2 separate regions of the Homo sapiens genome follow, and region 2 is linked to region 1. Evidence: fine-mapped expression QTL. Tissue or cell type: lymphoblastoid cells. Region 1 holds a variant in brackets; the other region holds the start of a gene. All regions are shown on one strand. Distances are between the middles of the regions.

Region 1 (5,396 bases):
TAGTGATTGAAATTTTAAAACTGTCAAGTATTTACACCTACAATCAAAATGTAAATCAAATTCCAACTGTAGCCTTAATGGAAGAATGTCACATTTTCATCACTCCCTACATTCTCAGCCATGAGTCCCCTCCATCCCAGGAATCCTTACAGTTTTCTCACAGTGGCACTGTGAAGGGCTGTACCTTCTTATCTCTGATCTCATCTCTCAGCCACATCTCACATCTGGATTCTCTTTCCAACTGTAACATTCTCTCCCTTTCTCTACACCCTACTTTACCTACATTCCAAAAAGCTTCACTCTGCTCTAAGCAACACTCACACTTTTGCCCCAGGAAAGGTAGAGGTAAGTTTTTGGCACAACTTAACCATTTATGTTTTTATTCAGTTGTCCAAAAATATGTTTTGTGATGACAATATTCTGGATAAAGTTACTAAGGATGTTTCCAGATTCAAGAATCTGACCTGTCAGATTCTGTTTGTGTGTGTGTGTGTTTCTTTGAATGCTAATTCCCACCTTGCAGATGTAGCCCTAAATACTTCTCTTACAACAGATAAAGTTTAATATTTAATATATTTCAGACAATTTTTAGTGTATCTTGATCATTTTTGTAACCTTCACAAAAACTAGAAACATCCCATAAAATTCTTAACTTTATCTGAGGCAGTATGATATAGTCAGGGAAACAGCGTCACAGCTTTGGAATTATCAAGAGCTGGACTGAGAACCCAGTCCAGACCACTCTCATGAGCAGCATAAACTTGAGCATGTTATGTTATGCCTCAGGGATTTGATTTACAAAGAAAATGGGAGTAATGGTTTCTATTTTATAAGATTACTGTAGGGATTCAAATATGTAATGGAGGCAAATCACTGTATGCCAGTGCCTGGTATAAAGTAGGTACTTAATAAATATCTGCTGAGCAAATGAAATCCTTCCCAGTCATCTCATCACAAAACCTAATAGAGTGTTGAAGGCACTGAAAAGTCCGTCAGACTGGAGGGGCCCTTACTAAAGTTCTACTTTAGCAGTAGCTTAATAAAAACTTTCTATTTATTGATTGCAACAAGTTATTTCTAAGAGTTTAATACATCTTTTTCTAAAAGTGCATTGTTATTTGGAATAAAGATAAGTGTTTGATTTTATGCTTTAATTTCTAGAACCATAGATTAGTTCAAATAGCTCATTTCAGCCACTGTTTAAGTCTCCTTTTTAATATCAGAAAGTATTTATGACTAAGGAAGCAATGAAAAATTGCCCCTTGTATGGTCCCTATACTCATCATGCTGAAGATTCAACTTTTTCTATGTGAATGTTTTACCTCCACTTCTGGTCCGCCAGTTAAGAACAATGAGAAAAGTGACTAGGTAACTCTATAAGACCAGGAACCTGATCGCCTGATCCTTTTAATGAAAACTTTGATTGCTTTTCTTTATTTACTTGCCTCTTATCTCTGAGAACAAAGTTGGAAAGGGAATTATCCCCGTGCCCTCCCCAATCTTCCACCTTCATTCCATTCTTCCAAAAGCTTATATGGAAAGTTTTCAGCCTGTCCCTGGAGGATAAATATTGCAAATTTTGAGAAATGCTACTATGGTTAAGCTTTGATTCAAAATTTCTGGAGAAAACTTTTTCTTTAAAGATTTTCCTACTTTTTGTTTATTTGTCTCTAATATTAAGTCCTACTTTTTGATTACTCTTTCAAATATTAAAAAATCTTGGCCAGGCATAATGGCTCACATCTGTAATCCCAGCACTTTGGGAAGCTGAGATGAAAGATTTGCTTGAGCCCAGGAGTTAGAGACCAGTCTGGGTAACATAGGGAGACCCTGTTTCTACAACAAATACAAAAATTAGCCAGACATGGTGGTATATGCCTATAGTTCCAGCTACTGGGGAGGCTGGGGAGGGGGTGAGAGGATCATTTGGGCCCAGGAGTTAGATCAGCCTGGGCAACAGAGCAAGACCCTGTCTCAAAAAAAAAAAGAATATATATATATCTGAGTGTGTGTGTGTGTTTGTATATGTATATATATATGTGTATGTGTGTATATGTATATATATATGTGTATGTGTGTATATATGTATATATGTGTGTGTATACATATATGTATATACATGTGCATGTGTGTGTGT[G/GTA]TATATATATATATGTATGGTTATTTCAATTGGTGTGCCTGAATAGCAATAACCAAAAAATACACTCTTCTTTATAGTGGTTTTGTAGTGATCACCTATTCCGACCATGTGGAGATCTAACATGCCAGAAACATCACTCCTGTTGTAGATGTGTTAGTTCTTGATTCTTCAGACAGATAAGCAGTGACTCTGATGTTTCCTAATTATGAAAGAATCTTTCTATTTGAGTACTACTGGATAGTTAATAAAGAGCACTAAAGCAAAGTCTAAAAGTAAAGAAGCTTGCAGTTTTAGTATCAATTTTAAAAACTAATAAAGCTCCTACTACAGGCTGGGGGCAGTGGCTCATGTCTGTAATCCCAGCATTTTGAGAGGTTAAGGTGGGAGAATCACTTGATCCCAGGAGTTCGGGACCAGTCTGGGCAACATAGTGAGACCCTGTCTCTATTTTTTAATTTAAAAAAAAAACTCCAACTACATATAAGGTTCTGTGCCTATTACAACCATTTGAGCTCTTATTGGATTCCTAGATGGCAGATAGACTTCAATGAACAACGGCTAACACACTATTGAACTTTATTTTCCAAACCTTCCTGAGCATCAATTTCCAAATCTGTAAAATGGGAAAATGATACAAGTTCAGGTTCTGTTGGAAGGGTGAAACACAAGCCTAGCGGACTCACACAGTGCTGTCCCTGGTACAGAGTAGGTTATCTTCCCTCCCTCCTCCTCTTTATGTATATCTGTATGAAATAATATAGGATTAACTGACATTGTGCTTTGTAATAGCACTGTCTTTTAATCTATATTCTATTTTTGTGCAAATATTGACTTATAGATATAACAAAATTGGGCATAGGTTAAAAGAGTGAATGGCTGGTAATATTAAAGAGGATGTAGAAAGATATATTTGATATATTGATTAAGCATCCTTGAGATTTATCAACCTCAAATGGGCCCTCATTACTGCTCTAAAGTCTTACCATGCCCAAAAGTCTCAATCCTATGCCTCCCAGTCATTATTCCACACCTTCTATAAGGTCATCAAACTGCAACTCTCCCTTTTCTTCTTTCCTCTTAGCTGAATAGAAACCATCAGAGGGAAACTTTCTCATCTTCCCACCAGCAAATCTATAGCCATCCTCTTGTTCTCTCATTACAGAATATTTTAAAAAGCAGAATGTCTTTTAAAACCCAATTTTTCAGCATGTGCCCTATATCCCCATCCCTTCCTGCCTTCTCAGAAATGTTTTTCCATTCTTTATTCCTTTTCCTCTTGTATCTTCATTTTCCTTTCTACTGTATTAGTTTCCAGATCAGTTAAATGTGCTCTGATGCCTTCCATCCAAGACAGCATAACACAAGCCAAAAAAACATTAAGTGGGTTGAGCATTCCTTATCTGAAATTCTTGGGACCGGAAGTGTTTCAGATTTCAGATTTTTTTGAATTTTGGAATGTTTTCATATACATAATGAGATATCTTGGGGATGAGAACCCAAGTCTAAACACGACATTTATTTATGTTTCAAATATACTTATAAACATAGCCTGAATATAATTTCATACAATATTTTAAATAATATTGTGCATGAAACAAAATTTGTGTACATTGAAATTTATGTACATTGTGAAAAAAATTTGTGTACATTGAACTACTTTAGTACCCTTTGTGGTGTGCTTGCATGGGGGAATCTGGACGTGCAAAGAAAACATATATTGCAGCTGACAGGGGCTGGGGGGATGTTTTTTCTCCTTGGAGACACTGAATAAACTGTGTGTCATGTATGTGTGTTTTTACCATGACCCCTCACATGAGGCTAGATGTGGAATTTTCCACTTGTGGTGTCATATTAACACTCAAAAATTTCAGATTTTGGATTTCAGATGTTCCCATCAGGGATGCTCAACCCGTCCCAGCCCTCTCCAGCTACTGCCTTGTCTCCCTAAACCTTTACTGAGTCCAGCTTTATAAAGAGGTGACTATGCCATCATCTTCTTCATCTTCCATTTTATCCTCAACACACGAAATCCAGCTTCCACTCTCAACATACTACAAAAACTGCTCTGGAGCCTGTATCCAGTAGTTTCTGTCCTACAACATGCAATGGAAACATCTCAGTATTTCATTTGAACACTCAACAGCATTTGACAAAACTCACTACTCCTCCTTGAAACACTGTCTTTATTGACTTTCCTGACCCCACACTCTCCTGGCTTTCTGTCTACTCTTTGAGAATTCCTTCTCAGTCTTCTTTGCCATCTTGGCTCCTTTTCTACGGATCCTCTGAGAGCAGAAATTACTCAGGGCATCATTCTGTAATCTCTTATCTTTTGCATTTTCCTGTGACTTGGCTTCTAAAAATATTTTCATGTGGAATGATCACAAATCAGTATTTACATTCAAAACTGTAGTTTGAACTTCAGACTTACATCTGTGAACTTCACTCTTCTACTGAGACGTTTTACAGGAATCTGAAAATATGTTCTAACTCATCTCTCTACCTTCCTCCCAAATCCATGCTGAACTCTTCCTCCTCATGGGCTTTGCTATTTCCTCCATCTGAACACAGCTCTTCACCTCTTTACCTGACTAATGCCTACTCTTCCCTTAGGTTCCCACTTAAATGTTACTTATTTCAAAAGGCCTTCTTTAACCCTCCTAATGAAATTATACTATCTTATAGCACAAAATAGAACTTCAAATGGTCACATGTACTCCCTATTTTCGTTAAAAGTACATGTGACGGTTTAAAGTTATATTTCAGTCTGTGATCTCATTGTTAAATGCTGGCTTCTCCCCTCTCTTGTTAGGCTAGAAGCATTTGAGTGAGCCATCTGCATTATTAATTCCCTCACCTCTTCAAATCTGCTCGAAGTTTGTCTTCTCAATGAGGCCTTTCCCGGCCTATATGGAATTACATCTCAACTCTCCCCTGAACTCCCATCTCCCTTATTTTGCTTTAGTTTCCCCCACCACTCCACCTCTCCCACAACACTTACAGACTTCTAACATTTCATATAATTTGCTGACTTACATTTTTTTAACTTGTGCTTTTCTCCCCACCCAAGAATGTATGCTTTATAAAGACTTCTTGTCTGTTTTGTTCACTGACATATCCCAAATGCCTACTACATGATAGGAGTTCAATAAATGCTTGCCGAGTGAACTGAGGGGCTATGTCTGTTTTCCTCCCCACCACATTGCAAGCTAATCAATTTCTGTGGAATTAAATTTCAAGTAGCATAAAATCTAAGATG
Region 2 (5,396 bases), 22 kb after region 1:
ATGAAAAAGAAGCCTATAGATTAAGGTCAGATTATACAATATTAATTATTAACTGGAAAAACAATTATGTTAACAATGCCATTTTCCTCCAGTGTCTGAGGTACTATCTAGCTAGTTCATTACTTGGCTTACCATATACAATGAATGTCTTTTTTTCCTTTTCTCATTTGCTTCCTGATATTTTGAAAGCATGAGTTACTGCCGGGAAACAAGGGATACAGAAAAGACAGAGAAATGTATTAAGTGACAGTAGAAGACAGAGGAATGTATTAAATTACAGCAACTGCATATGTTTAAAAATTTTCAGAACATTTTAAATGAGAATTTTTATGTTAATTTAAAAAATTAGTTGCTATATAGCTTCTAATTTAAAATTTTCACATGGTCTAGAAGCAAAATTTACTAGAACTCCAGTGATGAGTTTATTTAAAACAAACAAAAAATATACCAATACTAGTTTATTTTCCAAACTATAGTGAGAAGTTGTTATTCATATATCTGGATTTGAATTATACATTTTTCAGCATTCTTACCACAGCACAAAGATTTTTTTCATGCTTAGTAATGTTTAGTGAACAGGAAGGACTTAATATAACAATCAGTAAGAAAGAATTCTAGCTTTCTAGCTGTAGTATTATCATATGAAAAAGATTTTTTTTTCCTTGAGACAGAGTCTTACTTGCTCTGTCACCCAGGCTGTAGTGCAGTGGTGCCATCTCAGCCCACTGCAACCTCCACCTCCTGGGTTCAAGTGATTCTCGTGCCTCGGCCTCCCAAGTAGCTGGGATTACAGGTGTGCATCACCATGCCAGGCTAATTTTTTTTTTTATTTTTAGTAGAGACAAGTTCTCACCATGTTGGAAAGGCTGGTCTTGAACTCCTGACCTCAAGTGATCTGCCTGCCTCAGTCTCCCAAAGTGCTGGGATTACAGGCATGAGCCACCATGCCGGGCTTGAAAAATATTTTCTGTAAAGCATTTCTACCATAACTTCTTGAGACTTAAAACAGAGAAAAACATATTCATTGAGAAAATGCAGTTTTGATTTTTTATTGTTTAGATCAAGAATACGAACATTGAAACCAATTACTCATAAAGGGTGCTTCCTCTAGACCTTCTTATTGTCCTGAATTCCTATTTCATTAGCAAAAGTACATTTACATGAAATATATATATATATATATATATATATATTTCATATATATGAATCTGGCATAAATATGGATGCATACTTCCCATTATTAAAATTAGAATTCTTTAAACAAAACAAAATTTTCCTCTATTTTCAATTCTTGTCACTTCTGCCATTTGCTGCTTGAAGTCCTTAAAAAATATTATGTCTTCTGAATGCTTTCTAAGACTATAGAGAATATTGGTTGAATGAGGTTTAGAGTTGGCTAAAGGAGGGCTTTTTTGACCAGAAGTTGATTCTCTGAAGTTTTTTGTGTGTCTTTAACTTGTTTTTTTCCACTGATTAATCTTTCATAGTATGTAGTTATAATGGTAACCATCACGTACATCTGACCTACAATAAAGAAGAAAATGGACAGAAAAAAGATTATTAACTTTTCTTCCTTTTTTGTTCTTCTGTAGGTCTCATTCCTGTCAGTTAGACTTGAGGTCATGCTATTTCCTGTTGGGGTCACGAGGATGAATTAGTGATTAGACACTTAGGTGCTGGACTCAAAGGGACCTGGCTCCATCACATGCAAACTTTTTGTAAAAGAAGGTACATTGTTTTATAATGTGCGTTTTTGGTTGAATATTAAACTAAAACTTGAGAGCAATCTAGCTCAGGTAGACACTGGTGTCCTGAAATCATTTGCAATACATTTAAACTAAGATATACTAGATAAAGATATTAAAACAAAAGAAAAGGTTTAGATTTTATTCCATATTTCATTTATATTTTTACCAAACACCTATTGAATATCTAATATGTTCTAGGGAATGGACTTGGATCTAGAAACTTAAGAGTGAATGTGCAAATGCCTAGAATCTGTTCTGGTAAGAAATTCACTTCAGTAAAAAACAATACTAATATTATCAATAATAATCCATAATGTGATTTTTTAAAGCCAACTCATTTAATCTATTATATCTATATAATAGATTAGATTATAATCTAGACTGTATAATCTATAGTCTAGATTATAGACATTTAATAAAAACAAATTGAATTTTGTAAAAAAAGTACTTAATATACCTAGTAAAGTTTTATATGCCAAGTTTGTATTTTAATAATATTTTTATTTTAATAAATATCAGGAAGAAATAAACATAAAACATAGGAAGTGCATGTTCAGGTTATCTATTGTCATATTACAAACCACCTGAAAACTCAGTCGTATAAAACAACAATTATTTTTAAATTTTTGAACAGCTTTATATATAATTGACATATAATAAACTGCACATTTTAAAGTGCACACTTTGATAAGCATACATAGGTACACACCTGTGAAACCATCGCCAAAATCAAGATCATGACCGTATCCACAAATTTCATGATTCTGTAGGTCAAGGATTAGAGCAGCCATAAGCAGAGAGTTTGTCCCTGATACACGATGTTTTTGGCCACAGCTGTAGTTGTTTGGATAGCTGGGGGCTCCTGGGATGGCTAGAGTGGGATCATATGCCTGGAGTCTTCATTCTTCTCCATTGGATGTTTGCTGGGATGAGAAGGTCCAAGATAGTCCTTTGATAATGTGTCGTGGTGCCTGGGCTGGGATGGCTGAAACACAGGAGACCTAGCAGAAATTCTCTATACTCACCGCCATCTCCGGATAGTCAGACTTCTCACTCGGCAGCTGGCTTCCCCCAGGTCCGAAGTTCAAGAGACTTTCAAAAGACAGGAAGTGAAAGCTGCCAGTCTCTTTCAGCCTGAGCCCGAGACACTGGCACAGTTTTACTTCCACTATGCTTTATTGGTCAAAGCAGTCTCTGAGCCCACCCAGATTCTGGGAAAGAAGGACATTGACACCACCTCTTGATGAGATAATGTCAAAGAATTTTGACCATCTTTAAAGCACCACAACGCATGTTGGATATTCTATATTCCTGAGTGAAAGAAGACTTCAATTTGGTCACATGAACAAACTATTTCTGTGTTTTACAAGGGCAATAGTAGGGAAAGGAGGTGGTAGTAATATCAGAATTTCCATCAACTCTTCTGTCTTCGTTGCTGTTTATCAAGTAATGTTCTTCAAACAAACTGGAGTTGCTATGCCTTGATATGGTATAAATGAGTGTGTTTTGGATACAAATACACATGGTAAAGGTAATATGGTAAATACCATTGTTTATTTATATTATTTATATTATATTTATATTGTTTATTTATATTAATGGTATACTTTAGCCAAGTAAGTTTTTATCAAGATTCCAAAATATTATTGAGACATAATCAATTCAGTAAAAAACTATTTGAGATGGACACATCGGATTCTAGTGATGTTACTCCCCCAGGGTCTTACCCTATTGGGAATCTATTGTATAACTCACATATAACTGTACCTTTGGCCAGGCGTGTTGGCTCACGCCTGTAATCCCAGCACTTTGAGAGGCTGAGGTGGGTGGATCAATGGGTCAGGAGATCAAGACCATCCTGGCCAACATGGTGAAATCCCATCTTTACAAAAATTAGCTGGGTGTGGTGGCACACGCCTGTAATCCCAGCTACTCGGAAGGCTGAAGCAGGAGAATCGCTTGAACCCAGGAGGTGGAGATTACAGTGAGCCAAGATCGTGCCATTGCACTCCAGCCTGGTGACAGAACAAGACTTTGTCTAAAAAACAAACAAACAACTGTACCTTTATAAAAATTCCATCTTTTAAAAGTCTATAAATGGATCTGTTACATTTTAACAAACTACTAGAGGTAATTTCAAATAGATCACTTCAAATTTTCTGAATAAATATAATCTGTTGTGAGGATAGCATCTTGAAGAAATGTTATCAAGCCGTGGTAAAAATATATCTTTCCTTATATGTTCAACCACCATGTGAAATGTGTGAATCTAGCATAAAATGCAGTAAAAAAAAATTTTTTTTAAGTCAGTGAAATAAACTAAGTAAATTTTTCAAGAGAATGTTTTTATTGTGATCTTTTGAGTAGCACAAGGGAAACACAAAGTATAAATACGGTTTTTATACATGGAAAGGGGACACGTGACTCATTTAAGAGGAGCTAAATAATTATTAACAATTGTTTGTATTATTTAAATATTTGTTCAATGGCAGTGGCTACTACTTGTAAAGAAAGAGATACCCCATATCATCCTTTTGGATTCCACTTAACCATAAATAGTCATCTTGGTGGCCCAGTGGCCCTTGTTTCATAAATTTCTCACTGTACCACCATCCTAAAACATCTCTTCTGGCTAAAGCACACAGGAATGCAAAGAAGGAAGATAGACTCTTTATGAGTGCACATGTCCTTGCATACCTGTATTTCTATATCAGGGAGATCACAAAGAACCATTAAAAATGTAAGCCATTTGGAACACTAGAGCTAGAGGAGTGGCCAGATGGTAAAGATCTTGATCATATAGTACATCTGAAGGTGATGTATAGGGGCAGGAAGTATCTGCCACAGAACAGAGTTTAAGGCAGCGACATTCCTTGGGAGAGAAGTGGCAGCACTAAAAACAAGCAGTGAAAGCACCACATTTCCTTTGTTTTGGGTATCTTATACCTTTGGTTACTGAATGCTAAAGTCAAATCTCACGTCTGTTTCTTTAAGAAGCTCATGTCAAGATTTTTATTATTATTTTTTATTTTTTACAAGGTTATATCATTTCCATGGAGTTGGGGGATCACGTAACCAAGGTGAAAAGCAATTAAAATTAATTATTGTGATAGAGGTTAAGCTAGGTTAAAATACCTACCCAACCATCAACATTCCAGACTTCTAATGGAGATCTGTGTGTGCAGGGTGGTAAATAAGGGTTTGGCGTGTGGGGTATTAATTAATTAGCATCAGAAGAGAGAGAAGTCACACATGGTAGACAGTAAATATAGCTGGAGAAAAAAGACTCAAAAATATTTCTGTATTGCTGAGCCTTAAGTTCTAGAGTTTCAAACATGCTTGTTCAAAATGTAGCTTCTTTGTTCGTGGTCAACAAATTCCTCCCAGATGATGTCAGAAAGAGTGCCTTTATCTTTGGAACCCAGTGCAGGCCTAAAGTTTATTTCATATGGTATCAATACTTACTGAGAGTGTTTTATATATGATCCATTGTGCTAGGTTTTCAGGACACAGCCATGAAAAAGACAGGTTTCCTGCCCTTGAGAAGCACACAGGCAATAGGCAAGATTTTAAACATAATTAAATATAACAGAAAATGACCTAAAAAAGGAAATTCATATCTCAGAGAAGATTTAAGTGTTAAAAGAT

Evidence for each region. PIP is the estimated chance that this variant, and not a neighbour inherited with it, causes the effect.
Region 2: it holds the start of MROCKI, and the variant in region 1 is the best candidate, but not a certain one, in a credible set for the expression of MROCKI in lymphoblastoid cells (TwinsUK, PIP 0.81).

The regions. Positions count from the first base shown.
Region 1 is chr6:113,848,281-113,853,676 of GRCh38, forward strand. No RefSeq gene overlaps it. Among named protein-coding and RNA genes, the nearest start is that of MARCKS, 6.4 kb to the right of the region's middle. The variant G/GTA (reference allele first, on the strand shown) is at 2,138.
Region 2 is chr6:113,870,537-113,875,932 of GRCh38, forward strand. It overlaps MROCKI (MARCKS cis regulating lncRNA promoter of cytokines and inflammation), which reads right to left and starts at 2,811. Exons shown (of 3, transcript NR_038863.2): 1 at 2,458-2,811; 2 at 133-198. LOC124901382 (a long non-coding RNA gene) reads left to right here and starts at 2,869. Exons shown (of 3, transcript XR_007059716.1): 1 at 2,869-3,287.